Regions from separate parts of the Homo sapiens genome. Here regions 1, 2, 3, 5 and 6 are each linked to region 4. Evidence: fine-mapped expression QTL. A gene starts in region 4. Each other region holds a variant in brackets. All regions are shown on one strand. Distances are from middle to middle. Region 1 overlaps ADAM19 (ADAM metallopeptidase domain 19). Region 2 overlaps NIPAL4-DT (NIPAL4 divergent transcript). Region 3 overlaps ADAM19 (ADAM metallopeptidase domain 19). Region 4 holds the start of ADAM19 (ADAM metallopeptidase domain 19). Region 5 overlaps C5orf52 (chromosome 5 open reading frame 52). Region 6 overlaps ADAM19 (ADAM metallopeptidase domain 19).

Evidence for each region.
Region 1: its variant is fine-mapped to the expression of ADAM19 in whole blood (INTERVAL, PIP above 0.99).
Region 2: its variant is fine-mapped to the expression of ADAM19 in whole blood (TOPMed, PIP above 0.99).
Region 3: its variant is fine-mapped to the expression of ADAM19 in whole blood (TOPMed, PIP above 0.99).
Region 5: its variant is fine-mapped to the expression of ADAM19 in whole blood (INTERVAL, PIP above 0.99).
Region 6: its variant is fine-mapped to the expression of ADAM19 in whole blood (TOPMed, PIP 0.99).

What each region holds. Positions count from the first base shown.
Region 1 is chr5:157,540,191-157,545,450 of GRCh38, reverse strand. All of the region lies in intron 3 of ADAM19 (ADAM metallopeptidase domain 19), which reads left to right. Among named protein-coding and RNA genes, the nearest start is that of ADAM19, 33 kb to the left of the region's middle. RefSeq lists enhancers at 3,575-3,684, 3,845-3,904, 4,315-4,414, 4,555-4,674. The variant C/G (reference allele first, on the strand shown) is at 2,312.
Region 2 is chr5:157,452,344-157,457,562 of GRCh38, reverse strand. The region is part of intron 1 of NIPAL4-DT (NIPAL4 divergent transcript); the gene reads left to right. Among named protein-coding and RNA genes, the nearest start is that of NIPAL4-DT, 5.1 kb to the left of the region's middle. The variant A/G (reference allele first, on the strand shown) is at 2,126.
Region 3 is chr5:157,509,431-157,514,690 of GRCh38, reverse strand. It overlaps ADAM19 (ADAM metallopeptidase domain 19), which reads left to right. Exons shown (of 23, transcript NM_033274.5): 8 at 1,186-1,257; 9 at 5,224-5,260. Among named protein-coding and RNA genes, the nearest start is that of NIPAL4, 52 kb to the right of the region's middle. The variant G/A (reference allele first, on the strand shown) is at 2,848.
Region 4 is chr5:157,572,945-157,578,204 of GRCh38, reverse strand. ADAM19 (ADAM metallopeptidase domain 19) reads left to right here and starts at 2,430. Exons shown (of 23, transcript NM_033274.5): 1 at 2,430-2,602. The coding sequence starts at 2,509. It overlaps LOC124901121 (a long non-coding RNA gene), which reads right to left and starts at 3,226. Exons shown (of 2, transcript XR_007059018.1): 1 at 2,835-3,226; 2 at 1,595-1,925. RefSeq lists enhancers at 1-415, 416-1,031, 2,889-2,968, 3,205-3,734 and a silencer at 2,279-2,718.
Region 5 is chr5:157,679,940-157,685,199 of GRCh38, reverse strand. C5orf52 (chromosome 5 open reading frame 52) reads right to left here. Exons shown (of 3, transcript NM_001145132.2): 3 at 5,042-5,260. The coding sequence ends at 5,201. Among named protein-coding and RNA genes, the nearest start is that of C5orf52, 11 kb to the right of the region's middle. The variant C/T (reference allele first, on the strand shown) is at 2,076.
Region 6 is chr5:157,484,331-157,489,590 of GRCh38, reverse strand. It overlaps ADAM19 (ADAM metallopeptidase domain 19), which reads left to right. Exons shown (of 23, transcript NM_033274.5): 20 at 405-489; 21 at 1,102-1,326. Among named protein-coding and RNA genes, the nearest start is that of NIPAL4, 27 kb to the right of the region's middle. RefSeq lists a silencer at 2,873-2,962 and an enhancer at 2,630-3,130. The variant C/T (reference allele first, on the strand shown) is at 2,921.

The DNA.
Region 1 (5,260 bases), 33 kb after region 4:
TTCATGTACTATCATCTTGAAATTCTGAGATGAGATCTGACTGTCCAGGCATATCATGAAGCATTCATTTGGCCAGGCAAGGGCAGGGATCTTGACCAACTCCAGGTGCCCTAGTCAGCAATGCAACGAGAGGGGAGTATTTCTTTAAATGCAAGTTGGGCCACTGTTTATCTCAAGAAGGTGGCATGGATGCTGGGCAGGCTCTGACAATAGGTATCCACTATGATCTATGAGGGCTTTCCAAGTTCTGACATCCTTGACTTATGCTTTGGGTGCGGTCTGTGTCTTAGTATGCTAAGAAACATTGGGCAAGTTTATGAAAGTTACTGGGATATTTAATCAGAGCTTAAAAAGGGCTAAGCACCTACATTTAGCAGGCTGGTTTGTGGTCCTCACCTACCTGTTTTATGTTTGTTTGTTAGTTTCAGGGAGTGGTCCGCTTATTCCCTTTTTTCTAAGCATATTCTCACAGCTCCAGTGATCTCAGAGGGTCCTTCTCTTCATTTCCCCTGTGTCTTATCCACACCGTTTTTCTTTATGATATGGCAGTTTCCTCATACCCTCTTACATTCGTCTTTCCCTTCAGGTTTTCTGTGGTATCGGCTAATCTGATCAACACTGTGGTTATTTACCAAAAACTGGTTGCTAGAGAAGTTGTTCCTACTCACCATTTTCGCTTTTAGATTTTTCTCAGAAATTCTAAAGGTAGCACCTCATTTCCCCGAACTGTTCTTATCTAATTCCAACAAATACACATAATGGGCTATTCGGGACACTGGAAAACAAATTTGTGAACTCTTCTTGGGTGAGCCATTTTGAGGGCCCCGCAGGTCCCTGCCAGTTAAGTTGTCTGATCTCAAGAAGTCAGCTCTATTTGTGCAGAGAGGTTACCCATCTTCACAGAGGCAGCCACGAGGGAGGCCTGAAGAGGATTAAGTAAAGACCCTGCTGGCCAAAGGAGTCAGTGGTGCTCATCCAAACATCCTTTGGTATATAATGTAAAAGCAAAACACAGGACCAGAAACTGGTCGGAAGGGTGCCAGGTCTTGTGCGGACTGGGAGAAGATGTCGTGGGAAGTGGTTGGTGAAAGGGAGTGTTGACTTAACGCATTGTTTGGAAACTTCCTTAATAGGAAGTTAAAGAAAACATACTGAGTAGCATTGGCCTTTTGCCAGGCTTCTGGATGGCGCCATTTTTGCCTTCGGAGTGTTGCTTCCAAAGCTGGTCCTCTGGCAACGATGGTGCTTATTCAAGGGAGTCCCTGGGATAGGAGGAGGTCCCAATTTTTTACTCTAGGAGCAACCTCCAAAGTTCCCCCTTCCTTCGCCTTTCTGTTCCCTCATAAAGGAATGTGTCTGCTTGCAGCCCCCTGGACTCATCAGTCCCTTATTTGGCTTTAGGGCCATGCCTTTGGCACGTTGGTTTGTTTCCATTCCTTTGGAGTCAGAGGTGGAATGAGTACTGATGTAGAAATCTTGGTTCTGAAGCAGCTCTGGCTGTCTCTTCCCTGCTTTTCTTTCAGCATCTTAGAAAACAAAACAATACTCACTGAATTTATTTTGTCCCAAATCTAGACTAGTGCAGGCCATGACATTAGAATAGCACTCTGCTTTTCAGAGACACTTTCCAGTACCTGTCTGTCCTGGGCATTGCCATTTCTGCTTGATAGAAAGGGAAACTGAGGCTGAGTAGTTTGTGACTTGCACCGTATCACCTAGCCAGTTAAAAAATATTGTCAAAATTTACAAACCCAGAAGGAGAGAGACTAGTATTATAAACCTCAGATGCCCATTACCTAGATTTAACAATGATCAAGATTTTGCCACGTGTATATATAGCTAGTGCTGGAGAAAATGATAGCAATATTTGTAAAGCACAAATACTTTCTACTTTACAAATAATTCTTTCACATTTGTTCATATGATCTTCCTATATGCCAGGCACTATTCTAACATCTTACAGGGGCACTGTGAAGTAGATTTTGTCATTCTCCTCATTTTATGATGAGAAACCATAGGCACGGAGAAGTTACTGACCAGTCTGAATTCACACGACTTATAAGAGCTAGGATTTGAATGTATTTTCTCATTTGATCCTCAGCATCGCTGTGATACTGATGGTGATTATTAGTCTGTTCATTTTGCAGTCTAGAAAATGGAGGGGGTTTATGTGGCTCACGTGAAAACAATTTTTATACAAATACATAGTGAGCACTTCTCGAAGTTTTATTTATCTAATTAATGGGCTAACCAGCAAGATGATAAAACTGGTTTAAAATTGGATAAGGGAAACTAAGACGTATTTGTGTGG[C/G]GGTGTGTGTGTATTTAATAGTGAAAAAAGGAATGCTGAGATAAGATTGCTAAATTAGACACAAAACTAGTTAATATCCTAGGGGCTGTAAAATCATAACCTTTGGGGTTATCTTTTCTACTAGATGGAAATATTTGCATTTCTGTTGTATCTTATTAAGTTTTTACAAGTTAACATCTGATTTTACAGAGTGGAACAAGGGCTGTCCTAATTAATTGTAAATAGTACATCTTTCAAAGCCACACTCTTCCCATAAAGTCCAGAGAACCGTAGACAGGCCTCTGAGAGTCTAAGGCTTGGCTGTGCTCCCTTAGTGTTTTTTAATTTAATGTTTTGAGACAGAATCTGGCTCTGTCACTCAGGCTGGAGTGCAGTGGTGCAATGTCAGCTTACTGCAGCTTCCGCCTCCCGAGTTCAAGCGATTCTCCTGCCTCAGCCTCCTGAGTAGCTGGGATTACAGGTGCGCGCCACCACACCTGGCTATTTTTTTTTGTAGAGACGGGCTTTCGCCCTGTTGTCCAGGCTGGTCTGGAACTCCTGGCCTCGTGTGATCCACCTGCCTCGGCCTCCCAAAGTCCTGGGATTAGAGGCGTGAGCCATTGCACCCAGCCCTGGCTGTACGCTTGTGTGACATTGAGAGGAACCATAGTCATCTTTTGCTTCATTTCCAGGCTTTGGAAGGGCAGTTGCCTAGTGCAGCTGCTGCTTAAACCAAAGCATTCCGACTTTCCCTCTATGCTGGGTTAGCACCATCTTTAGACTTTTGGAAGGTGATTAGGAGGCTAGAAATAAAAAAAAGAATTAAAAATGTTAAAATTGCTCAAATGGAGTAGAATAATTCCCAGAACCCGAAAACATAAATCACCTGAAAAAAAAAAAACTATTAAAAATACAGATTTCTTAATCCTTCCCTAGAAAAGGGAGGGGATTGTGTATTTTTGAACAGTCTTTCCAGGTGTTGTGCAGTTGTTGGGCTAAGTCGCATGGTGAGAACATTATTACTAACATAGGCAGGATGAAGACCCTCCAGGTGAAATAAGAGAGACCAGAAAAGTGGACCTCCCAAGGCATCATCAGGGTATAAATGCCTGGAGACTCTTGGAAGAATTAGATAGAGAAAGGCCCAGAGAAAGGAGGTGTCAGCAAAACTTGCTACTGAGATGAGCAGAGTGATGCTCGCCTATGCTGAGCTCGTCTGCAGAGGGTGTTTTTCAAGGTAAATGGGAAATTGTTATCACTTTATCTTCACTGGTTTGCTTATCTGAAGCAGGAGGAAGAAGGTTTGAGCTCCCAGAAGATGTTTTGCAAATTCATTTTAGTGTCACTGCTCCTTCCTCTCTAGAGGGTGGTTTAGCCTAGAGAGGCATTTGAAATTTGTCTGACGATAAATAGAACTTAAAGGAATTGTCCTGAGTTTGAAGCTTCTGAGCCTTAGGAAAGACGGGTCTGAGCTGTTTTCAGGCTGCAGTGTACTTTCAGGGCCTGGCTGCTTGTACAGGTTCCAGTTCTTCTTCCCTAGAGAGTGACCTAATGTTTTATGTCCGGTATTTGGGGGTAGCTTATTTTCCTAGGTGGGAGTCTGAAGATGCAGGTTTTGCTCAGGGACTTTGGAATCTAAATGACCCAGATTTTGCTCAACTCTAGTGCTGGCTATTATTATGATGGTGCCGAGACATGGCAGAGTGTCCTACTGATTTCTGCCTGTCCGTGGGCTCCTGAGCACAGAGCAGACAGAGCAGGGGGCAGCAGGGTAGAACAGAAATTGCTTTTCTTTTAAAGCTAGAAAAAAGGAGTGGGCGGAATGGGAAATCTTGCACAGTCCTTTCTCTTCCTGGATGCACATCACTCACAAGTCGTTTCCTGAAAATCCTAATGCAATCCAATGGTGAGAGACGGCTTCCTGCCGGTCTGCTGAGCCAGCCCCTCGTCAGGGAGGAGATGAGAACAAGATGTGGTCAGAGAATGGGGCAGCTGGGCTGGGCCGGGCTGCTCAGTGACCATGTGCCCTCCTCTCTGTGGGACAGCAGCGTCCTTTGGTTCTGAGAGCAGCACCTGGACACATGGGCGTATGTGGACCTAGCTTGGGGGAGCTGCAGAGTTGTTCAAACAGATGGCTGGCCCTAACCCTAGAGTTTCTGTCTGATTCATGAGTCTGGGTGGAGCCTGGCAATTTGCATTTTTAACTAGTTTCTAGATGATGCTGATATTGCTGCTTCAGAAAGGGTGATTAGGTGGAAAATGAAAGCGGATTGTTTTATGTAGATTCAGAGGCCAGAATGAAGGCCTGTGGGTGCCAGTGACAGAGGTGTAGTTTTTAATCCGGAGTAAAACATTAAACTACTGTATGTGGTCAGAAATGGAGTGGGTAGTCTCAGGAGTAGCCTCTCCCTGGAGGTGTCCAGTGGTGAATAGCCATTTGGCAGATTCCTACACGAGATAAAAGGTTCATTCATTCGTTTGCGAGTTTATTCACTCATTCACAGAATGCACATGTACTGCCTGCTTGCTAGGTGCTGGGGGCCGGGGAGAAGACTTCAAAGACACAAGGTCCCTGTTTTTGGGGAGCTCACAGTGTAATTGGGGTTTGACTACATGATTTCTAGGGTTCCTTTCAGTGCTGAGGGTCAGAGAGGCCTGTGATGATGGGGTAATGTCACTGGGTGAATGATTTCTCCCCCCTTGCTAAGTCTCAGAAGAGGCTGAGAATATTTTTACCAGGAGTGCATTTTCTGTGGGAAAATTCACACTTCCCCACTGGCACCTGGAATGAACTATTAAACTCTGAACTCCTGACCAGCTGTACATGGCGCAGTCTGTGAAAGCAAACCCAGGAAATGGGCTGCAGGAATGAGCACATTGCGTTTTACCACCTCTCTTAAGTGATGTACTGGAGAGTTCATGGCTGGGGAAAGTTAGAGAGAGAAACTTTCTGGGTTCTTCTGTCATAAT
Region 2 (5,219 bases), 120 kb after region 4:
CTGCAGGTGAGTGTGCCCAGGCCCGCCTCTAACTTTGGAGGTGTGTGGTACCACCGTTCAGGTAGAGGGGAACACCTCCAAGACTATATGAATTTGAACACAGAGCAGCAAGACACTAGATGATTGGCCCTATTCGGAAGTGAGACTTCATGATGAAAAAATATATGCATCCATGCTACCTGCAAGGGAGAATTTGACAAGAGAATTCAACTTATCTTTCTCTTCTCTAAGCATTTCTGCTGTTCAGCTCCTCCTTGTGCTATAAAACGGAGTCAGCACTGAACCTGGAGTGGTACAGTCCTCAAACCCTCACTGCATTCAAACTTGACTGCTTTTATTCCAAGAACATAGGGTGAGAGATTCGGAGTATTTCCCTCTGGTCTGACCTTTTTTCTTCCTCGCTTTATTGAAGTATGACTGACAAATGAAAGTTATATATATTTAAAATGTACAACATAATGATTTGATATAGGTGTACATCGTGAATGATAACGACGATTAAGCTAATTAATACATCTATCACCTCACTTAGTTATATTGTGCGTGTGTGTGCATACATGCGTGTATGTTGAGAACACTTTAAATAGTGGCTTCTCTTAGTGGCCTTTTTGAATCACAAGAGAGGATGTTTCAGATTGTAGTTGCCAGAGCTAAGCCCAGATCCTGAGAGACAGATGCACATATATGTTCTTTAATGCATTTATTTTTGTATGTGTTTGTGATTTGTGGAACCTCTAAATTTTAGGGTCAGGGAAGGGGCCTCCTTGTCAGGGGTTAAGGGCAATATTGAGTTTATCCTATGCTTCAAGACCGGCCTTTTCAGAGTCAGGAGAATCTCATGTTTTAGGGCAGTGGCATGAGGGGAAGGAGGCTAGGATCCACTGCAGGGACTTTCACAACCTCACTGGGCCTCAGGCTCCCCATCTGTTCTAAAAGGGGGCTGGGCCTCAACAGGGCTGGCATCAGAGCATCTTGCCAGTGTAGACATAAAGGGCCCCATTGAACTGCAGTCTTCTCGGCTGCTTCCTGACAAAGCCCTTTTCTCCTCTAGCCACAATGGCCCTGTCAGGCAGGTAGCAGGGCCTGCAGCTTTGTCTCCCCAGAAAAGAACAACAGGGTTCACTGTCTGTTCCAGGCTCAGTCTCCCTGAGGAGGGTGGGTGGCTTACGAAGGGTCTAACAAGCCAGGGACAGATGGGTTCTGCCCTTAGCCAGCCAGCGACTGGTGACCCAGCCGCAGCTCTTTCGGTCAGTTATTCTGGGATGAGTAGGAAAACAAATTCACCAAAACCCAAGTTTTTAAAAACTTGACTTTTCCAAGTGCATGTCCAGATGTTTTAGGTTACAGAGCTGTGCCGTCCAATATGGCAGCTACCAGCTGCATGTGGCTTTTGAGAACTTGATGAGCCGCTAATCTGAATCGTGATGTGCTATAAGTAGAAAACAGGCTCAGTTAGCATTTTGGACTAGATCGTTCTTTGTTGCTGGAGGCTGTCCTGTGCTCGTAGAATGTTTAGCAGCACCCCTGGCCTCTACCCTCTGGATGCCAGCGGCACACACACCCCTGCACCCCGACACCCACCCCAGTTTTGACAATCAAAAACACCCCCAGACAATTGCCAAAATCACTCTGGGTTGAGAACCACTCAGATTTCAAAAACTTAGTAAGGAAAAAAAAGGAAAATCTCATTAATGATTTTTAAATATTGATTACATGTTAAAATGATAATATTTTGGATGCATTGGGCTAAGTAAAAACATTATTAAATTATTTTTCCTATTCTTTTCACTCTTTATAAAGTGGCTACTAAACTGTTTAAAATTACATATGTAGCTCATGTTATGTTTCTTTTGGGCAGTGCTGTTAATGGAAGAAACTGAGTGCCAGAGAGGGAAAGTGACCAACAGAAGGTCACAGAGCAACAGAGAGGCAGTCCGGGCCCCAGTCAGGTTTTCAGACTGGCACCTGTAGGATAAATGCACCTGGTAGCAATAACTTAAGCATACGCTTACAATGAGCCTGTACAGAAGACACACCTGAATGTCTGTTCTAAGCTCGGGAATCTGGGAGTAGCCAACCTGGAGACTCGTTTCTTGTCTATGAGGAACATCTGAGCCCCTTGCCT[A/G]TCCCATGGAATATGGGCTGTACAGAAGATCCAAGCCCTGAGGTTTGAGTTGGATGAAGGTTGCCAGGTGGAGGTCGTTAAGGGGAGGGTGTTAAGTGAAGATGGAATATAAACTGCATGTGGTTTGCAAGTGGTTGTGGTTTTCCTGCCCAGCCCTTCGCCACTGGGTTATCTTGTCCAGCCCACCGCGGCCGGACTGTAGGTAAAGAGGACATCGTGTCTAGCCTGTCACCAGTGGACCTTTTCTGTAGGTAAAGATGATGTGGTGTCCTTACCTGTCCTAGCCTGTTGTCAGTGGGCGGGTTTTCCTGTCCAGCTCACCACCACTGGACTTTCTTCCCTGTATGTAAGCTGCCAATCAAACCCCACCTCTCATTTGCTGGCTCTGGGTCTCTTCTTCAGCCCCTTGAACCTGGTGCCTTCCCTATTGAGGTGAATAGGAGTTCGGCACAATAGCACTCCAGAACAACTCTGCTGCTCCATACAGCTTCACAATGGAAAGGAAATCCAGAAATCAGTGCATTGCGTCTTTCCAGTGTGCTATGGTCAAAGAGCACTACAGCAGGAATAGAGAGGAGAGACATTACGTCTGCGGCTCACATTATGTTTAATCTTCATTTAATCTTTGCAACAACCCTAGTAAGAGACTTTGTTGTTAAGCCTGTTTTCCAGATGAGGAAACTGAAGTCCTGTGAGGACTCTTAGCCTGCAAGTTGAGAAACTAAGAATCAAACCCAAATACTTCTTTTAATACTACACATACTGTCGTGCAGTCCTAGGTCTAGTGAGACCTGGATAGGTCTCACCTCTTCTCCTTACATCCAACCTGGATAAGAGGACCGCGCAAGATATAGTCTGAAGTCCTTCCCAGCCCTGCTGAGCTGGTCTTCTGGGTAGGGTGGGGAAAGACAGATGGTTGTCACCTCCTTCAGGCTGACAGGGAGTCATGGAATCTGGATGGTCAGCATGCAGAGGCTGGCCCACCCCTTTTCAGGTGTGTCCCTGGGATGGCTGCTGTCCTCATAAATAGCTTTGCTGACGTCAGAAATAAGGCTTGGAATGGACAAGTGTATTTTTGCTCTGGTTCTAAGAAGAGCACCATGCCTAACGATGGGATCCACTGGCATCGATAATGATTACTAACCCACCACTCTACCGAGTTCTGTGTGCTAAGCACTTAGCAGATATTACCTCATGTGCTCTTACAATTCCTTACTCTGGTACCACTTTAAATCCCATCCTACAGATGAAGAAACTGAGGCTCAGAGACGTGAAGTGACTTTCATAAGGTCACACACAGTGACAGAGAATTTCAAACTGGGATTGTGCATTCCCACAGCAGTTCCTTTAACTAAGGCACTGGTTTGATGAGGCCACTGGTTTGAAGATTAGTCCCCTTCCTGACCCTCCTCTGTATGGGAAGACTGGGGCCAGCCAGACACAACATGGGGCAACTATATAACCTTCTCGTCGGCCCTTAGCCAGAGTCAGAGTTGAAGAGGCTCACCTAATCCAACCCCCTTTGTTTGAAGTTGTGGGGAAACTGAGATACAGAGAGGGGCAAGGTTATGTCCAACACCACTCAGCTAATTTGTGGCAGAATCAGTACTTGACTCAAAGTCACTGGAATCCCAACCCAGCACTTTTATCTCTCTCTTTGCTTTCTTTCTTTTTTCTTTTTTTGGAGACAGGGTCTCACTCTATCACCCAGGCTAGAGTGCAGTGGCGTGATCTCAGCTCACTGCAACCTCCAACACCCAGGCTCAAGCAATTCTCTCACCTCAGCCTCCAGAGTAGCTGGGATTACAGGTGTGTGCCACCATGCCCAGCTAATTTTTATACTTTTAGTAGAGACAGGGTTTCACTATGTTGGCCAGGCTGGTCTCAAATTCCTGACCTCAAGTGATCCACCTGCCTCGGCCTCCCAAAGTGCTAGGATTACAGGCATGAGCCACCGCACCTGGCCTGTTTCTTTGCTTTCTTTCTAAGAAAGGACAGACTTTAGGACAAGTCATGAGTTAATAGTTTTTGGCCACTTTTAAAAGATAAGCCAATGCACTAAGGTTTTCACGGGTATTATCCCATTTAATCCTCAAAACAAGCCTAAGAATTAGGGACTGCTATTATTCCCATTTTAGAGATAAGAAAACTGAGGCTCAGGGAGGTTGAGAAACTTGTCTTCTATTAAATAGTGGAGCCATAACAAAACCCAGCAGACTAATTCTAGAGCCAGTTTCTTCTCAGGCTGATCCAACTGCATCTATGGGATTCTCCCATCAGAACATCTGCCTGCAGGTGGAAGACTGTCAAATTACTGTAGAAGGCAGGGCTCACGTCAACGCATGTATGTGGAAGTGCAGCATTGCTTGGCCTTGATGTGGGTGTGCACAGAGCCTAATGCACTTAAAGTATGTATAAGAACTTCAGATCTTGTCGAAAACCAGCTATAGTTAAAACAATAATATTGATATGAACTATTACTTGTTGCCCAACTTCCATGTTGCAGGTTCTTTATGTGTATTGCCTCTGAGCCTTACAGCAACCCCATGTTAGGATACCTTCATGGTAACTTCATAAAGTTACCCAAATTTTACAGCCGATGGCAGTGAGACTTTGTGAGGTGAAGTGACTTGCTCAGGTTCACACAGAGAATAAGTAGCTAAGCTGGGATTCAAGCAGGTTCCCAAAGCACCTGCCACTCTGTCTTCCTTGTTTCCTGACGTTTGCTTCTCACTGGCAACCGTAAGGGCAGAAATCTCCCGGTGGAGGATTGAGGAGGACTGTAGTTAACGATCGTCCCCTGGGCCTGTGTGGACCTACAGCATTTGGTATACGGGAACAGGGAGGGTGGGAACACAGTGAGCTTTGAATGTGGCCAGAGGGAAGACTGATTCTAAAGTTAACTTGAACATGAACAACAAACTTAGGCTCTGTTTTCCCTTTCAGTTAAAAACAAACAAACAAACAAACAAACAAACAAACAACCATCTCAGACTCTGCTGTTTGACAGGCTGGTATAAAAACAGACAGGAGATATCAGTTCCGGTCCCTGTTCTGTCACTAACACACTGGGACCTGTGGCAGTTCCTTTCCA
Region 3 (5,260 bases), 64 kb after region 4:
ATGGCAGATATTTCTAATGGAACACAGCTTTCTTTCCTGTGCTTGGTTAGAAATGTCTGATTACGGCCAGGCGCAGTGGCTCACGCCTGTAATCCCAGCACTTTGGGAGGCCAAGGCAGATGGATCACTTGAGGTCAGGAGTTTGAGACAAGCCTGACCAACATGGTGAAACCCCATCATTACTAAAAATACAAAAATTAGCTGGCCATGGTGGCGAGCACCTGTAATCCCAGCTACTCAGGAGGCTGAGGCAGGAGAATCGCTTGAACCCGGGAGGCGGAGGTTGTAAGCCGAGATCACGCCACTGCACTCCAGCCTGGGCAACAAGAGCGAGACTCTGTCTCAAAAAAAAAAAAAAAAGAAAGAAATGTGATTGAATCGATGCAGTCTCATAATTCTTCTCATTCTTCTCACTGTAGAAGGCACTGCCAGTGGATCTGAGTGGTGTGCAAGATGAAGCCTATTTGCCAGTGTCTTATGGTCCTCCTCGTTGGCACTCATGTCATTCACATGACCTCCCACTGTGGTTATTTCTGTGCACGTTTTCCCGGCAGGTTTTCTCAACCATTTCAGTTCTATACTCCTTAAGTACAGGGTCTGTCACTCAGCATCTGCCACAGTTATTTCTGGCCCTCTCTGTTTTAATTGAAGCTCCTCTAGGCTAGAACCAAGATCTCACACTTCTTTGTGTCCTACATAGTGCTAAGCACAATGCCTTGCCCATAGCAGGCATTCAGCAGCAATTCGATGATTGTTGATTGACCACATGTAGGGAAGCCTCGTGAGATCTGTGTAATGGTGGCTTCATGTTGGGGTGATGACCACGGTGAGGATTGGATCAGTCCTCCTAAGCCCCAGTGGGAGTTTGCCAGAGGCCATGTAATTCGAAGGACAGGAGAATAAGATGTGCTTCAAGGGTTAGAGGAAGGCAATTCTACTCCGTGCATAATTATTGCATGCCTACTGTGTGTGCTGCGCTGAGCTAGTAGCTGTGGATATGAAGATGGATGTTGACAGGTCCTACCCTCCAAAGCTCTTACTGTGGTGGGGAAGACAATTGCATAAAAATGATGGCTCATAGAAGACAGAAGAAAATAAGAGCAAATTCAAAGACAAGTAATGGGGCGCAGGAAGCATCCTGTGAGAGGTTCTGGGATCTCACATGGTTCTGCTTGTCCCATTTAGTTTCAGAAGAATCGACGAGACCAGGACGCCACCAAACACAAGCTCATAGAGATCGCCAACTATGTTGATAAGGTGAGACCAGGTGTGTACTTTGTGGGAAAGGTGCCAGGTGCCAGCACTTCCAAGGGCACTGGAGCTGCCTTCTGCTGGATTGGCTGCCCCAGCCATCTTCTGAAAGGGAATGAGCAGTGCCATAGAGGCCCAGGGCGGTCATGACAGAGCCCTGAACTACGTACCCTTAGGCAAGTAACTCATTTTCTTTGTGTTGCATTTTTTTTTCTTTTGTTCTGTTTTCAGCTTATAAATAGAAAGGCTGTCGTAAATCAATGTGTGGTTTTTTTTTGTTATTTTTATTTTCCTGGTGGAATTTTAAAAAATGAAATCTTATGCCAATATCTACTATAAAAGTTAGATGAAAACAGACTGCTCTAAGTGGGAGCTGGGGTGAGGACCCAGAACACTGTCCTTCTGACCCCTTCCTCTTACCCCTGCAGTGGCTCCCGAGCAGCTTGGGGCATGGAAGAGCCCAGTTTAAGAATCCTTTAAGGTTCTTTAAGGTTCCTTCCAGATACAAAGCCCAGGGATTCTCTGACTTAGGAGGGAATTGAGGTAGGTCAGGGTGGGAAAGACACACAGCCTTAAAAGTTGAGAAGTGGGCTGTTTGAGAAGTGGGTTGCTTGAGAAGCGGATTGTCTGAGAAGTGGGTTGCTTGGGGCTAATCTATAAAGTCTCCATCTGTAAAGTTATCCTAAAATTATGTCTTGTCTCTTAGGAAGGATGTGCAGTGGTTAACTTTCCTAGGTCAGGACCTTTTACAAGATGCTCTTCGGAAATACCTACATTTTTGAATTTTACTAGAACGGGCTGGTCTGGGACTTGGAAGTACATTGTGTATATGAAAGAAGATATTTGTTATAGTACAAAATGCAGAATAGGTAACCTAGAATGACAGTAGCCTCTTGGTAGGCTAGTAGTATATAGTTTTTAAAAGTAGTTTTTCATGTGTTTGGGATCAAAAGTCTCTTTGAGAATCTGGTAACGTTTATTGCACAATTTTAGAATACTCATAACATTGATGAAGCTTAACTTTGGGCCTGCTAGGGATTCATGAATTCCAGGTCTAAAGGGAAAATCATTTTTTCCTAAACACTAGAGAATATAGGAGATCACTTAAAATATGTTTTAGGGATTAATAGGCAAATGTATTAGTTCTGAAGTCATCAGATGGCAGTTTCCATGCCCATGGTTTTTTTCTGCCCTAGATGGCTCTGGAAACAAAGGTCAGTGGTCAGTGACAGGTGAAAGTCAAACACTGGCATTTCCTGGAAGGACAGACTCTAGGGACACAGTCCAGTCCTCCCTCTAGCTCCTGACTCACTCAAGAATAACATTTAAATAATCCTACAACCCAAACATTTGACATCTGGGAAAACAAGGGAAGCTTGTTTCCCTGGGGAGAATATGGGAGGCTGACTCTGCTTTCCCCCATGTGACATCTATTGTTTGGAGACCTGGCAGGTTCGGACTTGGCTGGGTATCCCCTCTGTGGGGTATGTGATGGAACCAAGGGCGCTGGTGACAAGTGAAGGGAGAAGAGAGGCACCAGCAAGCCCCAGTCCTTACTGAAAGCCCTAAGCCTGGGTGGCCCATGCATCCTGTGCA[G/A]CCGTCTTGGCTCTCTCCTCGCGGCTGGTGTTAGTCACTCCTGGCGGGTAAGGGAAGCCACGCCCACTTCTCTGGAGCTTGCTGACCTAGCTACTTGAACTGAACTATTGTTGAACTAAAACTGGAATGAATTGGACTCGTGCTGAGTCATGAACCCAATCCAAAATGTTTTTCTGTAACTGTGAAAAAAAGCCAAGTTTACTTCCTTCAAAAGCTCCCTAGTAAAGCAAATTCAAATTGGAATCTGAACCTTTTATTTTCTGTAACGATTGAACTGGCACAAAACAGAAAAATCAAAATTTCTGTTGAAATAAACTGATATTTCACTGAATCTGGAGCCCATCTTGACCAGCGTTTCTTGGAGCGAGTGGATTATCTGGATGTGTAGGTACTGCAGCACTGAAGTAGTAAAGGGTCACAAATAGGCTCTGAGGTTGTAATTTGGGCCTTCATCCTGGCTCCACCATCTTCTTGCTGAGACTTTGGGCAAGTTCCTTAACTTCTCTAAGCCTCAGTGCCTAGTACGTAAAAAGTGGTGGAAAAATGTTGGTGCTATGATTATTCTTTTCAGCTGGGGCAGTACCTACCAATTTTGGATAAAGATGGTATCTCCTGCTCATTATGTCCTCTCCATACATGGGGCTTTTTATTAAGTCACTGGCTCAGTATTTGTAGGGTGGACCCATCAAAGAACCCGTTGTATCCACACCTTCCAGTGGTTTAGCTTTAAAGAAAACCCTCCTCCTGCTTATATTTGTATGAGGTGAAAAATGCCAGATCATAAAGATTAGATGTAGCTCTAGCCTCGAGGAGGTCGAGTCAGATCTTGGGTATAGAATTTCAGGATCTCTGGTTTGGACAAAACCCTGAAGATTACCAAGAACGTCTGTAGTCTATTGCTTGCAACCTGCTTATTCCATCCTTGACAAAACCTGAGACTATCCAGGGATGGGGAAGAAAATTTGAAGAGTAAGCATATCTGTGCACTTTTATGTCATTTATACTCATTTACTTCCAAAATGAGTGGGAGACATTTTATAATAAAATATCCATGTATTAATATAATTTGGTATATCCATACGAAAGAATATTATTCAGCAATAAAGAGAAATCATAAACGAATACACTCTAACACATGGATACATCTCAAAAACATTATGGTAAGTGAGAGAAGCCAGACACACAAAACCACATATTGTAAAACAAATGTCCAGAAAAGGCAGAATAGAAACAAAGTAGATGCACGGTTGCCTGGGCTGAGGGTGAGAATGGGAAATGACTATCAATAGACATGAGGGATCTCACCGATGTGATGAAAATATTCTAACACTGGATGATGGCGATGGCTTTATTTTATTTTTATTTTTTTTTGAGACGGAGTTTCGCCCGTGGCCCAGGCTGGAGTGCAATGGCACAATCTTGGCTCACCGCAACCCCTGCCTCCCGGGTTCAAGTGATTCTCCTGCCTCAGCCTCCTGAGTAGCTGGGATTACAGGCATGCGCCACCACGCCCAGCTAATTTTGTATTTTTAGTAGAGATGGGGTTTCTCCATGTTGGTCAGGCTGGTCTCGAACTCCCGACCTCATGTGATCCATCCACCTTAGCCTCCCAGAGTGCTGGGATTACAGGTGTGAGCCACCACGCTTGGCTGGTGATGGCTTTAAAACTTGGTAAATTTACCAAAAAGCATTGAGCTGTACACTTAAAATAGATGGGTATTATGGTATGCAAATTATACCTCAATGAAGTGGCTTTAAAAAATCTATATACAAGAGAACTTTTTAGATACCCATAAGAAAGATAAGGCTCACATAAGGAATTGGGAGAAAAAAATTGTACCAGACAGCCTGGCCAAGGGCACTGATTACAGAAGACAGCAAAGCTCAGCTCTGAGCTATCTCATGACCAGCTTTGTTTGAAAGCCTTCTTCCTATTTTAAAATGAAATTTATGTTCCTGTCTGTTTTACCTATTGACCTAAGCCCTACTTGAACATCATGCAGAACAACTTTTTCCACATGATAGACCTATTCATATCTGAAAGCAATTTTATGTCCTATCTCAGTCATCTCTAAACAAAGTCACTGCAGTTCTGCCACCAGAATGTCCTGCTCTCTCTCAGGATCTCATTTTCCCTTTCTAAAAAATGTCAGTAACACCAGTTGCCTCCTTCTGTTGGAGCCATGGGCAGAAGAGAAATCTGGTATCTGTGCTCTGAGTTCTTAGGCTAGGAAGGAGCTTTTTTTTTAAATTTATTTTTATTTTTTAGTTTTAGTTTTTTTCTTTTTAATCTCAAGCTCCACCAGAATGAAAGGAAGGGGCTTTTAAATCCCAGGTGGTATTGACAGATACTGTGGTTTTTCTGTGTCCTTTCAGTTTTACCGATCCTTGAACATCCGGATTGCTCTCGTGG
Region 4 (5,260 bases):
TCAGACTTGGAATTAATGCTGGAATGAGTGAAGACATTTGGGCTGCTGGGATGGGGTGGATATATTCTGCACGCGAGAAGTGTGAAAGGAAAATAAATCTTAGGACTCCCAAATCACTAAGCCAAGGAAAAAGTCAAGCTGGGAACAATGTCAGGCAAACCTGTCCCCCATTTTATTCTTTTCTTCTTTTTTTTTTTTTTTTTGAAATAGAGTCTCACTCTGTCGCCCAGGCTGGAGTGCAGTGGCGTGATCTTGGCTCACTGCAACCTCCCCTTCCGAGGTTTAAGCGATCTCCTGCCTCAGCCTCCTGAGTAGCTGGGATTACAGGTGTGCCACCACGCCTGGCTAATTTTTTTTGTATTTTTAGTAGAGACAGGGTTTCGCCACATTGGTCAGACTGGTCTCGAATTCCTGACCTCAGGTGATCTGCCCGCCTTGGCCTCCCAAAGTGCTGGGATTACAGGCCTAAGCCACAATGCCAGGCCACCATCCTATTCTTAAATAAGATAGCTACAAAGAGAAACAGCTACATACCTTCCTCACAATTTTCACACAAGGAAATTCCTTGTGGACAAAGGACAGACAGAATTTAAAGCCATCCCTCTGAGGCTCACCGGAAACAAATGCATATCTGATTGCTTCTTCTGCCCTATTGTTTATGTAAAAATGTAGATTCACTGAGCTAGACTAAATTGTGTATTCAGTGGAAGGTTGATCAAGGACTCAAAAGAATGTAACCTCTTCTGTTTCTTATCTACTTATAACCTGGAAGCACCACCCTTTCTGCAGCTTGGAGTTGTCTTGCCTTACCGGACCGGAAGCAATGTACATCCTACACATATTGATTGATGTCTCATGTCTCCCCAAAATATATAAAAGGAGGCTACACCCCCACCACCCTGGGCACATGTTGGGACCTCCTGAGGCTGTGTCATGAGCACGTTCTTAAGCTTGGCAAAATTAACCTTCTAAATTGACTGAGACCTATCTCAGATATTTCGGGTTCACAGAAAGATACGAATTTTACAGCAGCTGGAGACTAACGGAGTCCCAAACGACATTAATGGCCAGAACCACTTATTTGATTTCCCTCATGGGTGCCCATGAGTAGGGTTTGATAGACCTACCTACCCATCATCTTCAGGAGTGCCTCGCCCTCTCCAACACTTAGCACTTCTCTAGTCAACCTGGGTTTGACTAAAGAGGCTCAGAAAAAGGAACAGATGGACGAGGTTTGAGGCTGGGATTCTACAACGAGGCTTTGCTAAAACTTGCTGAGGGATCTTAGGCAAGTCATTTCTCTCTCATTATCAGTTTCTCCACCTGGAAAATAAGGTGTGTTGCATCAGGCTCTGGAGTTATACGGATGTGGGTTTGAATCTAGGCACTGACATTAGCTGTGTAATCTTGGGCAAGTGGTTTAGCCTCTCAGGTTTGATTTCCTCATTTCTAAAACAGGGATAGTACTAGTACCTACCCCATGGGATTACTGGGCTAATGAAAAGAGATAATGTATGCAGAGTCCCTGGCTCATAAAAGTTATTTTCTCCGATTAATTAAATAAGTGAATATGTGTAAAGTGCTGAAGACAGCGTTTGACACTTAGCGTTTTATCAGTCTTAGCTATCATGATTTTCTTATTCTAGTACATAGAAAGTCCTCAATAAGTAACAGTAGTTATTATTATTTTTGGTCACATGTCCCTGTGTTTCCCTCCAAAACCCTAACCATCCCCAATTCTGGTTTTCTCCCCGCATGCAGCCCAAGGGTTTTCACGTCCCAGTGCGATTGTCTGGGCTGTTTCCTCCGCCTGATGTTCCATTTCTCCTCCTCCCGATCTCAGATGGCTTCTCCTCTGGGATTCCTCTGGTCTTCATCACTCCCTCCTCCCAGGCAGAAGGAATGGCTCCTGGATTTGTGTCCTGCTTAAAAAAAAAAAAAAAAAAAAAAAAAAAAAAAAAAAAAGAAGTCCATATAGCACTTAGTTCTTTGTGCCTGGCGGTTGGGTTAACTCTTTCTGAGCCTGTCTCCGAGAGTGGCGGCCCCCGGGGGACGGCGCTGGGTGAATCACCTCTGAGTGTCACCCAAGGCGTCTGGCACAGTGCGGGACAGTAAACGGGCCGCTGTGCGGAGAGGGGTCCAGTTTAACTCCTAGAAGCCCGAGTCCCCGACCCTCTACAGGCCGCGTCCACCACAAATCCCTCCTCCTGGGGGGCTCGGATTCTCCCTTCCCCGCGGTCTCCCTCACCTGAGCCAGCCCCGCTCCCCCGAGTCTCGCCAGCTCCTCCCCGGCCCCTCCCTCCAGCCCCCTCCGGGCTGGAGCCTCCCCTCCTCCATCCCCTGGCGGAGGCCCGCGGGGCTGGAGGCGGAGCGTCTCGGCAGAGGGCTGGGAGCCGGGTGGGGAGGCGCGGGGCGAGCCGGGGGGTTCCAGACGCGCCTCCACCGCCGGGCAGTGGGCAGGTATGGCTGAGGGCGTGTGAGCGCCGAGCGCTAAGGGCCGCCGCCACCATGCCAGGGGGCGCAGGCGCCGCCCGGCTCTGCTTGCTGGCGTTTGCCCTGCAGCCCCTCCGGCCGCGGGCGGCGCGGGAGCCTGGATGGACAAGTAAGTGGCCAGGCGCGGGGGGATGGAGGCTGGGTGGCCCGGAGACCTGGGAGTAGCCTTGCGGGTCCGGAGCGCTGGGACCGCGACCCCTGCGCCTCCCGCAACTCCGCGGGGCCTGCGCCCCCGCCGTCCCCAGCCTGGGAGCCCGGGCTTTGTTCCCACGTTCTGCGCCCTGGGAGGTGGCAGAGGTCGGGGAAACCCGGCGCAGCCAGAAAACAGCCGGTCCGCTCACTGGCTAGCCTTCCCTTCTCGCCTTCTCCTTCCTCTGTTTTTCTGCTTTTGGCTTCTCTTTCCGCCGTTCTCGGGGCTTATCCTCCTCCGTTTTCTCACGGTCCCTCGTGTCCGCTCCGCCTCTCTCTCTGTCTTTCTCTCTACCGCCCGCTGCACTCGCCAACGCCGAGCATCCCGAGCGCCCTGCCCGTGTGGCCTGGGAGCGGCTTCCTGGGACCAGGCTCGGTGCCTGCCACACTGGTGGGGTAGGACATAAAATGCCCGCGGCAGACTGTGGTAGCCTTGGCTAGGGGATGGCTCGCTGGGTATCTGCAGCCACACACTTCGGATCCCCGAGCTGGCAGGAGCCCTACTGAAGGCCAAGTCAAACGCACCCATTTCACAGATGGGGAAACCGAGGCCCACAAAAGGGAAAGGACTTGCCCAAGGCCACGCCACGGGTTGAGGTCCGCGGTGGCACTGGAAACCAGGGCTCTCTTTCCACGCCAACCCGACGGCCGCCTTCTTTGGTCCTCAGTTTCCCCTTCTGTGAAGCGAAGGGGTCTGACTCGATGTTTCCAGCTAAGATGCCGGGTGATGTCCGTGTTTCTCAGGACTAGTTTCCCAGACACCAATCCCCTCCCCGGCTCCATCCCTCGGGGGCTATAAGCAGATTTCGCGGAAGGCTTGGTCCCGGGGGGCGGTGCCCGGGTTCTCTCATTATGACCGGAGAAGGCTTAGCCCTGGCTCCACCGCTGCAGACGGGCTGGGCTGACTCCAGACTGCTGCTTGGGGGACCAACAGTCAGCGTTTTCAAATAGAGCGAGCACCGGCGGAGCGAGGGTGGGCTGGCTGGACCCCCGGGCCGCCTCAAACCCAGAGGCTGAGAGCTCTTCCGACAGTTCGGAACTTCCAGGGGCCGAGGTCGGGCGGTCCTCCCAAAGGGCTCAAAGGAACCGCCCTTTGAGCTGTTGTTCCGAAGGGGAAACTGAGGCACAGAGGAGGTTCTAGGGTAGCACCAGGCCTGTGTCAGTGCTTAGTGCAGGAGAAAAGCATGAAGAAAGACAAGGAAAGCTAGTTACTGCTCCTAGCACAGGCGCCTTCTCTGAGTTTTGAGTCCTTGGAGAACACTTGCTGTAGAATATCTGGGAAATAACGAAAAGTGTAAAAGAAAATGATCTGCAACCCCCAAATCCACAGTTGCTGTTGATATTTTGTTTTTTTTCCCCTCCACATTCTTTGTGTGTTCCTATGGATATATATTGATAAAATTGGAACCATACCCATAAGTACAGTTTCGTGTCTTGCGTTTTTCACTTCACACCATGAGCGTTTTCCACATCATCAAATTCTCTGTAAAACATGATTTTAATGACTCTATACAAAGTTTTCAAAAGTTAAAAACACGACTCATACAAATGTGGCCAAGATTTATTCAACTCATTAATGAGGTAGCAAACAGGAGAGTAAAGCTGATTCAGGGAGCATTAGAAAGGGGTGATACAAGCATTGGAGAAAGAATGTTGAAATCATGTGGCCCAGGGCAGATGCAGAAATGGTGGATGCCCCATGAAGCAAACCATAATTCTTGGTTATCTTTCTTTTTTAATTTCCTTCCTTCATTCCTTCTTTTCTTTCTTTTTTTTTTTTTCAGAGTCTCTATCTGTTGCCCAGGCTGGCATGCAGTGGCACGATCTGGGCTCACTGCAGTCTCTGCTTCCTGGGTTCAAGCTATTCTCCTGCCTCAGCCTCCTGAGTAGCTGGGCTTATTGGCATGTGCCACCACACCCGGCTAGTTTTTGTATTTTTAGTAGAGACGGGGTTTCACCATGTTGGCCAGGCTAGTCTCAAATTCCTGACCTCAGGTGATCCGCCCGCCTCGGCCTCCTAAAGTGCTAGGATTACAGGCGTGAGCCATTGTGCCTGGCCAGGTTATCTTTTTACTATGCTGAAATCACTTACATCTCTGTCAGACAGAATTCTATAGATATATATAGATTATATAACTTCACAGAGTGTAGCTTTTAATCAATGGTAAATAAAAAGTCAATGGTACATTCCCCTAGATAATGCAGTAATCCATGGGTGAGTCTGTTAAACAATGCTCTGATACAACATTGAGAAGACATCTTGCTTGCTCTTGCCTTATTTCCAAGTTTTGGAGACCTTTTCTTAACATGTACTATGTTCCTCTTTTGGTGAGATTTTAGATTGCTTTCACTATTTTTTTACAATCGTAGATATCATTTAATTCCATTAAATGCTCCATTAAATATTATAGAATTCCTTTTTGTTTAAAATAATATAGACTTATCAGAGCCACCAGGGCAAGAGCGATGCTTGTCTTTTTTTTATTTCTGAGATGGAGTCTTGCTCTGTCACTCAGGCTGGAGTGCACTGGCGCAATCTTGGCCTCCCAGATTCAAGGGATTCTCGTGCCTCAGCCTC
Region 5 (5,260 bases), 110 kb before region 4:
TGTGCATAGGAATGCACCCCACAGACCTCTAATTACAGAAAGCAAAATTGACTACGGGCTCCCAACTGTTGCACTGTGAAATCCATCATCATGTTTATACTGAGACCAGATTTCCTTCAAGCTTTTTCTAGCTAGTTCCTGGGTATATAAGGGATACTAAGGCAGGCCCATTTCTGGGAGACATGCTAGACCTGCCCTTGGCCAAACATTTGTAATGACTTTTCCTGAAAAAAAAAAAAAAAAAAAAAAAAGGATGTTTTATTGACTGAGCTGGGCAATGCCAGGCTGGTGGCTTCTTTTTTTCTGTTTCTATTTTTTTTCTTGTTTTTTTTTTTTTTTAAAGATAGGACCTCACTCTGTTACCTAGACTGGAGTGCAGTGGTGCAGTCACGGCTGCCACCTTAGCCTCCCAAGTAGCCGGGACTACAAGCATGTGCCACCAAACTTGGCTAATTTTTTTTTTTTTTTGAGTGACAAGAGCCAAACTCTATCTCAAATAAATAAATACATAAAAATAAAGTTTTGCACGTAATTTATGAAGCCCATAAAGGGCATCTTAAGGGCCTATACTCTTAGAACATTTCTGGAAGGACACACAGAAATGGTTATTGCTGTGGCCCTGGAGAGGAGGAGGGGAATTTTCCTTTATTGAATACCCTTTAAATGGAATTTTATATATAGTGCTTGTATTACAATTTTAAAGTTTTTAAACTTGTTAGTTATTTTAAAGGAACTGCTGTTCTAACACTTTGGAGTGATCACAAACTCACATACCTTCAGGGGCCAGGGAGATTAAGTGCACTTGGGTTTAGGGAGATGGCAGTGGTGGGAGCTGCAGCTAACTGCAGCTTCCATACCACACCCAAAGTACTTTAATTCAATACCATGAGAAGCATAGTGTTTGATCAAACCAATGCCCTGCTATTGGTCCCAGGACTATTAATTAGTGACCTCAGCTTAGAGTGATAGTGACAAGTTTTATCTGAAAATCTTTCAGAGGAGTCAATGATTCCTTAGTGAAGTATGCAGAATCTCTAAAGCAATGAGGGGTTGGGGGGACCACCATGGAAATTACCTGAGAGCTCCAGAGAATATGGCTGGTTCTGCATAATGCAATTTGCAAAGAAAGGGTTATCCATCCAAGCCTCTGTTTTCCTGATGTGTCCAACCCCTGCCTGGTGGAAACTCCTAGTCTGATGGGAGATGGACAGAGTCTAGTCTTGGAAGGCAGAGCTCATGTCAGGGCAGGCCCTGAAAGGTCTGAGCTGAATTTCCTCAGGTAGAAATGAGGGGAAATCTATATTCCTTTCAGGGTGAACAGTAGAATCAAAAGTTCTGAGGTGGGCCAGGCATAGTGGCTCACACCTGTATTCCCAGCACTTTGGGAGGCCCAGGCAGGAGGATCACTTGAGGCCAGGAGTTCAAGACCAGCCTGGGCAACACAGTGAGACCCCTGTCTCTACAAGAAGTGAAAAAAATTAGTGGGGCATGGTAGCACATGCCTATAGTCCTAGTTAAGAGGCTGAGGTGGGAGGATCACTTGAGGCCAAGACTTCAAGACTGTGGTGAGCTATGATCATGCCACTGTACTCCAGCCTGGGCAATGAGAGGAAGAGGAGGGGAGGGGAGGGAAGGGTGGGGGGAAGTGAGGAGGGGAGAGGAGGAGGGAGGGGTGGGGGGAAAGAAAGGAGGGAAGAAAAATGGAAGAAAGGAAGAACAAAAGGAAGAAAGGAAGGAAGGGAGGGAGGGAGGAAGGGAGGAAGAAAGTGAGTTCCAAGGTGGAAAATCAAGGGGCCTGTTTGGAGAAGTGAGAGAATTCATGGGATCTGGCCCATGGGAAGAAGTATGGGAAATCAGGTTGAAAAGGCAGATTCCAGGGAATCAGGCCCTCCCAGCCCTCTAATGTGACAAAGTTAAGGAAGAATTCTTCCTGGTGACCATTTCATTCTTGTGGAACGAGTGCACTCAGCCCCCCAGAAGTAACTGTGGAAGGCTTGGTTGGAACCCCAGTGACCAACCATTGCTCCTGACCAGGTTCCCAACAGGCACATGCTGGCTTGGGATGCTCCAAGGCC[C/T]CCTGGAGGATATGGATCTATCTCAACCCAATTTCCTCCTCCTAGGGGATTAACTGAACATGAGGGAAGAGAGCAGATCAGTGCTCAGAAAGGGAATGTATGTTGCTCAGGGTCTCAGAGGAAACTGAGGAATCACACAAGCTGAACTCCCACCTCTAGATTCTTATTCCAAGGCTCACTCCCCAGCACCAGGCTGCCTCTTGAAGTGTATGTGTCAACTCCAGGTACAACGCAACAATTACAATTCCCAACAGAACCCCCTTCCGATTCACCTACAAGATGCTAGGCCTTGGGCTAGGTTCTTGTCAAGCTAACTGGGTTCTCAGAACAAGCCTATAAGATAGGTACTACAATTATTCCCAGTTTCCAGATGAGGAAGGTGAAGCTCCAAGGGGCAAAATGACGTTCTTCTTTCTGCAAGGCAGAGCCGAGATTCCAAATCAGAGCCATTTGACTGCAAAGATCGTGCACATCAGATAAAAGAAACCTCACTGAAGCAGGGAGGGACACACACAGCCTTCCAGGCTTGGGAACAGCATTTCCAGATGTCAAAGGATCGTACAGAGAAAATACTGTGCAAACCAGATTCTCCCCATAAAGCCCAAAGGAGGCATCCTGCCTTCAGCCAGAGGCACCAGACTCCAGCAGCTGATTCCTGTTTCATCTGATTCCTGTTCTTCCTACTCCCCTCTCCACCACCCCGAGACTATTCAAATATAAGCTTTGGCTGGGTGCAGTTGTTCACACCTGTAATCCCAGTACTTTGGGAGGCTGAGGCGGGCAGGTCACCTGAGGTCAGGAGTTCAAGACCAGCCTGGCCAACATGGTAAAACCCTGTCTCTACACAAATACAAAAAAAAAAAAAAAAAAAAAAAAAAAGCTGGGCATGATGATGGGTACCTGTAATCCCAGCTATTGGGAGGCTGAGGCAGGAGAATCGCTTGAACCCAGGAGGCGGAGGTTGCAGTGAGCTGAGGATCGTGCCTTCATGAAAGCAGAGGATTTGAGTCTGTTTTGTTCACTAATGATTTCCAGCACCTACAAGAGTGCCTGGTATGTATAAGGAGCTATTAATAAATAAACATGTGTTGGATGATGTGGAAGGTGAATGTTTTTTAACTATAGGGAGTTTTTGTTTGTTTGTTTTTTGAGATAGGGTTTCCGCTCTCTAACCCAGGTTGAAGTGCAGTGGTGTGATCTTGGCTCACTGCAGCTTTGACCTTCTGGGCTCAAGTAATCTTCCCACTTCAGCTTCCCGAGTAGCTGGGAGTACAGGCATGCGCCACCACACCAGGCTGATTTTTCATTTTATTTTTTATTTTTTGTAGAGACAGGGTCTCACTACGTTGCCCAGGTTGGTCCCAAACTCCTGGCCTCAAGTGATCCTCCCACCTGGACCTCCCAAAGTGCTTGGATTACAGGCATGAACCACTGCGCCTGGCCAAACTTAAGACTATCGCACAAAGCTCCTGTATGGGGGTACTTCCATTAGCTGGAAGACGCAACTTGAATGACAGTGGCTTGGTGACAGAAGCTTTGAAAATGCTCCTGGATGAGCAGACTGGATAAGGAATACCACTGGGAATCACTTTGTAAAGTGATTAGTCAAGTTAAACTCTCCCTGAGTGATCATTTTGATAAGCCTGGACTTTCTTGCTTTGCTCAGAGCAGGATTTGTTTCCTTCCACTCAGCAGACATTCGTGAAGCATTATGTATGCAAAGCTCTGTGCCACATCTCAGGATCTGAGAAATGGAAGGAAGTGCAGAAATCACCCACCAGCCCCACCATTCCTGAAGAGCAAGTGGGAGAGCTGAAACCCAGAGAGAGGTTACTGAGGGAGGCAGGAGGTCCCAGTCCAAGGCCTGCCCCTGGCTCTGTCCCCTCGGCCCTCATAGGTCTGCAGACTTTCAAAGTCAGCAGTTGGACCAGGCCCAGAATTTTAATAGGCAGAGTAACACTTCTGACTTAACAAAGCGCTGGGCTGGAAAGTGTTCCTGCTAGGGGTCTCCAGGAATTAAATGACTTTGGTGGCCATGCACGGTGGCTCATGCCTGTAATACCAGCACTTTGGAAGGTCAAGAAGGGAGGATCACCTGAGGTCAGGAGTTCGAGATCAGCCTGGCCAACATGGCGAAAACCCTTCTCTACTAAAAATACAAAAGTTAGCCAGGTGTGGAGGCGCATGCCTTTAATCCTAGCTACTCAGGAAGCTGAGGCACGAAAATCACTCGAACCTGGAAGGCGGAGGTTGCAGTGAGCCGAGATTGCGCCACTGCACTCCAGCCTAGGCGATAGAGTGAGACTCCATCTCAAAAAAAAAAAAAAAAGAAAAAGAAAAAGAAAAAAATGCCATGTAGGAAATGACATACAGATAAGCCTTGAAGGATGAAGAGAGAGCTAAAGGGACATTCCAGATGAAGGATCTTCGCAAATAAAGCTACAGTGTGGGGACTATCCAGGTGTAGTCTGGAGAGCAGGCAGAACAGGGAGTGGGGACCACTGGAAGGCTACTGGAGCCATCATGGTGAGAACCACTGGAAATGATGAGCCCTGGGCTCAGCACTTTACATCCTCATGCTAGACCTTGGAGGTAGGTTCCCTTACTACTACCACATTCTTTCAGATAAGGAAATGGAGGTCCAAGGAGGTGACAAGGTCACAAGACTGACTGGTGGTAGAAATAGCACTTAAGCCAGGTCCTTCTGATGCCTCCCCCTGACCTCCTTACCACTGGAATGCCAGGCAGTGGCATTACTGAGGCCTTCCATCTAAGGTACCATTGTCCCAGCACACTTGGCCCGGCATGTCACCTCAGACATGTGGGCACCGAGAGGTCAATCTTTGCCTTAAGCATGGAAGCTAGCTTGATCCCACCTTTTTGAGTTGAGCATCTACGAGACTATCAGGACCTCCTTCACCAAATAGAGGGGATGCATGGGCAAGGAATATGAGGATTGCTGAGGATTTATTATGCTCCGCTGTCTGCTGGTTTCTGTTTATTGTTCTACAGTTGTGTAGGTTGTAGTTACTAGTTCTCCTCGGGTCACACTGGTGTCATCGTGACCCTGGGGCAGATCCCTTTGCCAGAACTAGGGTGGTTGGCCTTTCTTGGGAGACTGGAGTTTAAACTGGTGGTGGTATCCCGAAGGTTAAGTACCGGTTGCTGTTCACGGATTCCTCTCT
Region 6 (5,260 bases), 89 kb after region 4:
TATGGAAGATGTACAGTCTCTGAGTCACCTATTAAATAACACTTGTTCTGGAGGGGATTTTAAGTCCCAGGTCTTTCTGGATCTATGCCTGATGGGGATTGGTTGATGGCTCGTGACACCCTTGTGTCTCCTCACAGGGGAAGGGTCTTAAAAGGGTGAAGAGAAGGTGCTGAGAGAGCTCTGCTTTGTATAAGGCCAACTCTGTTTCCTTGAGAGTTCTCCATTGGCCACACGTTTTTCTACTTAGGAAGATGTGGTTCGAGAAGACCAATCCCACTCCCTCCAGAGCAGACTTGGGAAAGATTTAGCTGCTTGCTGGCCGTGCTTGGGTCAAAGGGAACTCAGGCACTGTCCCCTGCTGAACATCGTCCCCTTTCTTTTCCTCCCCCATTTCTTGTTTCTAGTTGTCCCTTCAGGGTTTCTCAGAACAGCGGGACTGGTCATGCCAACCCAACTTTCAAGCTGCAGACGCCCCAGGGCAAGCGAAAGGTAAGAGCTTTGCACCACTGAACTTTGCTACTTTTCCTTTATCCCTCAGGGCCATGCTGTATTTTTCTTTTTGAGATGGAGTCTTGCCCTGTCGCCCAGGCTGGAGTACAGTGGCGCCATCTCAGCTCACTGCAAGCTCCGCCTCCAGGGTTCACGCCATTCTCCTGCCTCAGCCTCCCAATTAGCTGGGACTACAGGTGCCCACCACCATGCCTGGCTAATTTTTGTATTTTTAATAGAGACGGGGTTTCACCGTGTTAGCCAGGATGGTCTCCATCTCCTGACCTCGTGATCCACCCGCCTCGGCCTCCCAAAATGCTGGGATTACAGGCATGAGCCACCATGCCCGGCCGCCATGCTGTGTTTTTCTAAGAGCCTCTGTGGGCCCATGGGATTGGTAATAAAAGCCCTTTTATTGGCTGGAGAGACATGTTATTTGGTTCTGACATCCCCTAATGACTTTAAAGGTTGCATCTGACTTCTGGGATCCTCAGGGGTTTAATAGATTGGTGTGTCTGTTCTCCCTTTGGGCTCTGGTTTATCTCAAAGAGACACACAAGGCCAGCCCTGAGTGATTTCTTGTCTCAGGTGTTCCTTGACTTGTGCGTACAGGTGATCAACACTCCGGAAATCCTGCGGAAGCCCTCCCAGCCTCCTCCCCGGCCCCCTCCAGATTATCTGCGTGGTGGGTCCCCACCTGCACCACTGCCAGCTCACCTGAGCAGGGCTGCTAGGAACTCCCCAGGGCCCGGGTCTCAAATAGAGAGGACGGAGTCGTCCAGGAGGCCTCCTCCAAGCCGGCCAATTCCCCCCGCACCAAATTGCATCGTTTCCCAGGTAAGTGGATAATCAGCAACCTTGGGCTGGGAACATTGCTTTTAAGGCCACTTTCAATGGGTAATGGCAAAGGTGGGGAAGGTGAAACTTGTGGGGTCATGAGCTGACTGCCTTTTCTGCAATTCAGTCAATACGGGGGCGCACAGCAGGTTAGAGCAACGAACGTGGGGAAATAGACTCTCTAAGAAGCTCCTAAACCATGTGGCATTTTCTCCCGGGTTGGCCTATTTTATGACAAGCCACTACCCACCTTCCACCCCATATTAACTTCTGTCAGTTCCCCCATGCTCGTCTGCCTGCTAGGTCTTTGTAAATGCTGCTTGTTCTGCCTGATACGCTCCTTCTCTCCTTGGTGGGGCCACCTCCTGCTCATCCTCAGATCTGCTCCTAGATGCCGCTTCTCCCAGGAAGTCTATCCTGATTCCTCAATTCTGAGGTTGATGGGACTGTACTTCTCTCATCATAGTACTCTTCCTACCAAATTGTACCTATTGGTACCTTCTACTGATTGGAAAGTCTTAGGGATGTATCCTGATGCCTTGCCCATCCCAAGGGGCAGGTGCCTCTGGGAGGTGAGAGTGGGGTCTAGACTCTCCCCCACCAGCCCTGGTGCTCTTGGAGGCATAGCCTGCCCAGCAGCCTGTTCCCACTGCGTGTGTGTGCTCTGATGGCTCTGACCACACCTTCTGCAGGAGATCCCCCAGTGCAGACACAGGTGTTTCCTGGGTGGCGGCCGGGTGGGGTGCCTTCTGGAACTGGCCTGTGTGTTTTGGGTGTGACCCCTCAACTGAGACTGCTTTCTCTGGGTGTAATCCAGAGGGCTCCATGGAACCCAAGCTGTCTCTGACCCTAAGGACTCTGGGGTTGGCTGCAGGCTTTGGAGGGTCCTTGGGATGTGTGGCAGTGGTACAGTTTGGGAAGGCTGAGGGCATCCATTCTGTTTCTCTGCTGTGAAACTGCTGCTCTCCCCTTCCTTTTATGTGGGGCAGAGGTAGGATGGAAAAATCCATGCAGAAAGAGAGGAAAGATTGACAGGGAGAGAGAAGGAAAGAGGAAAGGAAAAAAGCAAGAGAGGGGAGGAGTGGAGAGAGAGAGGTGGAGAGTGTACTCGTGTGCTGAGGGTGCTATAGCAGAGTACTGCACACTGGGTGGCTTCAAAACAGACACTTATTTTCTCACAGTTCTAGAGGCTAAGAGTCCAAGGTCAAGGTGCTGGAAGGGTTGATTTCTGAAGCCTCTCTCTGTGGCTTGCAGGTGGCCGCCCTCTTGCTGTGTTCTCACGAGGCCTTTCCTATGCACTTCTGCCTCCCTGGTGTCTGCCTGTCCAACTCTCCTCTTCTTATGAGGACACCAGATTGGATTAGGTGGCCTCATTCTATCCTAATCACCTCTTTAAAGACCTTATCTCTAAATATGGTCACATTCTGAGGTACTCAGGGTTAGGGCTTCAGCATATGATTTTTTTTTTTTAAATGATGAGTGCACAGTTCAGTCCCTAACAGAGAGATGAAAGAAAGGGAGAAAGCAGGCGTGTAGAGACTTGGGGTTACAGGAGAACAGGAGTGCCAGCAGAGGGAGGAGGGAGTGGGTCGGG[C/T]GAGCAGTCCACTCAGACTGTTGTTCTGAAAAACCCACACTAGAGGCATGTTCAGAGAACACGGGGCCAGCCTCACCCCTGTCACCCCTAGGTGCTGAGCCGTAGGTCAGGAAGTGTCAGGGACAGCGGGGACCCAGCTGTCTGTTAAGTGGTGGAGGCTGTGCATACCCTGCACCTGCACCCCTGGGACTGCTGGCAGGAGTCCCGGGTGCAGGAAGCTGCCCAGCCAGTGGCAGGCACCCCAAAACACAGCCCCCAAGCACAGCTTCTCCTGGGCCCCGGGTCCCAGGTGGGTGTCTCTCTACAAGCGAACAGTGGGAGGCAGCTGCTCTGAGTGGGGGCTGCTGTGATGACATTGGGCTGCCACCTGCCTCCTCACAGCCATTCCAAGAAGGGAGTTGCTGCAGCCCTCATTTCTCTTGGAGGTTGCCAGGCCTCATAGGATTGAAGGGACTTGCCCGACATTGCACAGTTGTGAGTGGAGGAGCTAGGACTTGAACCCAGGTCTCATCCAGCTGAGTGAGACAGCCTCCTGCCCTGGGGCCACTCACAGTCTCCAGTCTGCCATCAAAGATTCCCCACCTCCTAGCTGGGGGACATGGACCCCCTGGAGAAGTGATAGATGAAACCTCATCACTTCTTCAGTTCTGCTATTCTAAACCGGCTTATGCACCTGCACTCTGGGCCAGGCAATGACGAGGAAGGCAGATGGCAGCTTTGCCTCCAGGAGCTCACATTCTGCTGGGGCAGTGACTCTGGGATATGTGTCACTGCAACAGTGATATGTGCTGTGAAGGAGAGGCTCAGGGTGCTCAGAAGAGAGTAACGAGGATTTGACCTAATCTGGGAAATCCAGGAAGGTTTCCCTGAGGTGGTGACATTTGAGCTGAGACATGAAGGAGGAACAGGACTTAACCAGGCTGTGAGGGCAAGTGATGAAGGAGCTTTCCTGGTCCCAGGACCCACTAGTAGGGAGGCTCTGTCATGGGAGAGGGCCCTGTGGATTGAAGGAACTTAAAGGTTTGTGTGCTTGGGTCCCAAGGAGCTATGAGATGAGGCTGGAAAGCCAGGAGGAGCCCGTCTATGCCCAGGCCACATAGCCTTGGTCAGGACTTTGGTCTGTATTCCATAGGAAGAGGACAGTGGTGACATGATGCAATTTTCTGTTGACAAGGATTGATCACTCTTTGGGATATCTTTAGGCAGGAGAGAGGTGTAGTTCCTGCAAGGGGCCCATAGATGCTTCTGAAGCTGTTAATCTACTGTTTGACCTGCATGGGGATTACTTAGTGTATTCACGTTGTGATAATTCATCTAGTTGTATATTTATGATTTGTTCGCCTTTTTCTGTGTGTATTATATTTGAATTTTTAAAATAGTTTTAAAAAATGAAAGTCACTCTAGAAGCAAATGGGTGTCCTAGTTAGAAGATTTAAAGGTTGTCCTGAAGAAAGATGGTAAAAGCTTGGAGCAGGGAGTAGGCAGGGCTGATGAAGTGAAGCTGATGAGAAATGTGCAGAAGAGAAAATAGATAACGAGTTGAAGATCCATTGCTTGGCAGGGGATGACGCCCCGTGTCAGGCTTGTGCAATCTGATTGAGTAAGATGCCATCCCTTGTGGAAGGGAGCATGGGCCAGAGTAGCTGAGGGACTGTTTCTGCTCTAGAAAAAGGAAAACAGTGCTGGGCGAGGGCCCTGGTAGGGCTGAGTTGGATCATCGCAGATGTGGCCTGTGGCTGGTTGCCCTGGGAGGCCCAGTGCTGACATGCTGATGAGGCTCCTGCCCAAACTCCAGCCCCTCAGTGGCTCATTTGCACAGCTCCCTTGGGAGCACAGCCTTTCCCAGTTGCAACCTGACATCTGCACCCAGCTGTCACCTGCCCCAGAAGGTCTCTATCCTGGCTTCCAGCAACCATTGCAACTTGGCAGCTATTCTGAGCTGGGGAAGGTGGTGGTGAAGGGGGCGGGTTGTATTGTCCTTCTAGATAGAGCTGAAGAACATGGCTTTTTGGCCTTAAGAATTTGCTTTAGTTTCTGATTCCATGAAGCTTCTTGGGGAAAATCTCGGCTCTTTGTGTTATTCCTGCCCTCTCTATGTGCTTGCCTTTTGTCCACTTTAATACGTGGTAGTGACCCTCTCGAGAAGGGAAGGAAGTCAAGGGGAGCAGGCACTGGAACTCCCTTCTATGCAGTTGGCTTCCCCTTAAACCCCAACAGCTTGGGGGCCTGCGGGTGGGACAGTCATTCTTTGCCCCTTAAAAAACAATGGATCAACTAATACGTGTTGAGCACCTACTGTATACTAGGCACTGTTCTGGAAGCCAAAGATGTATCAGTGAA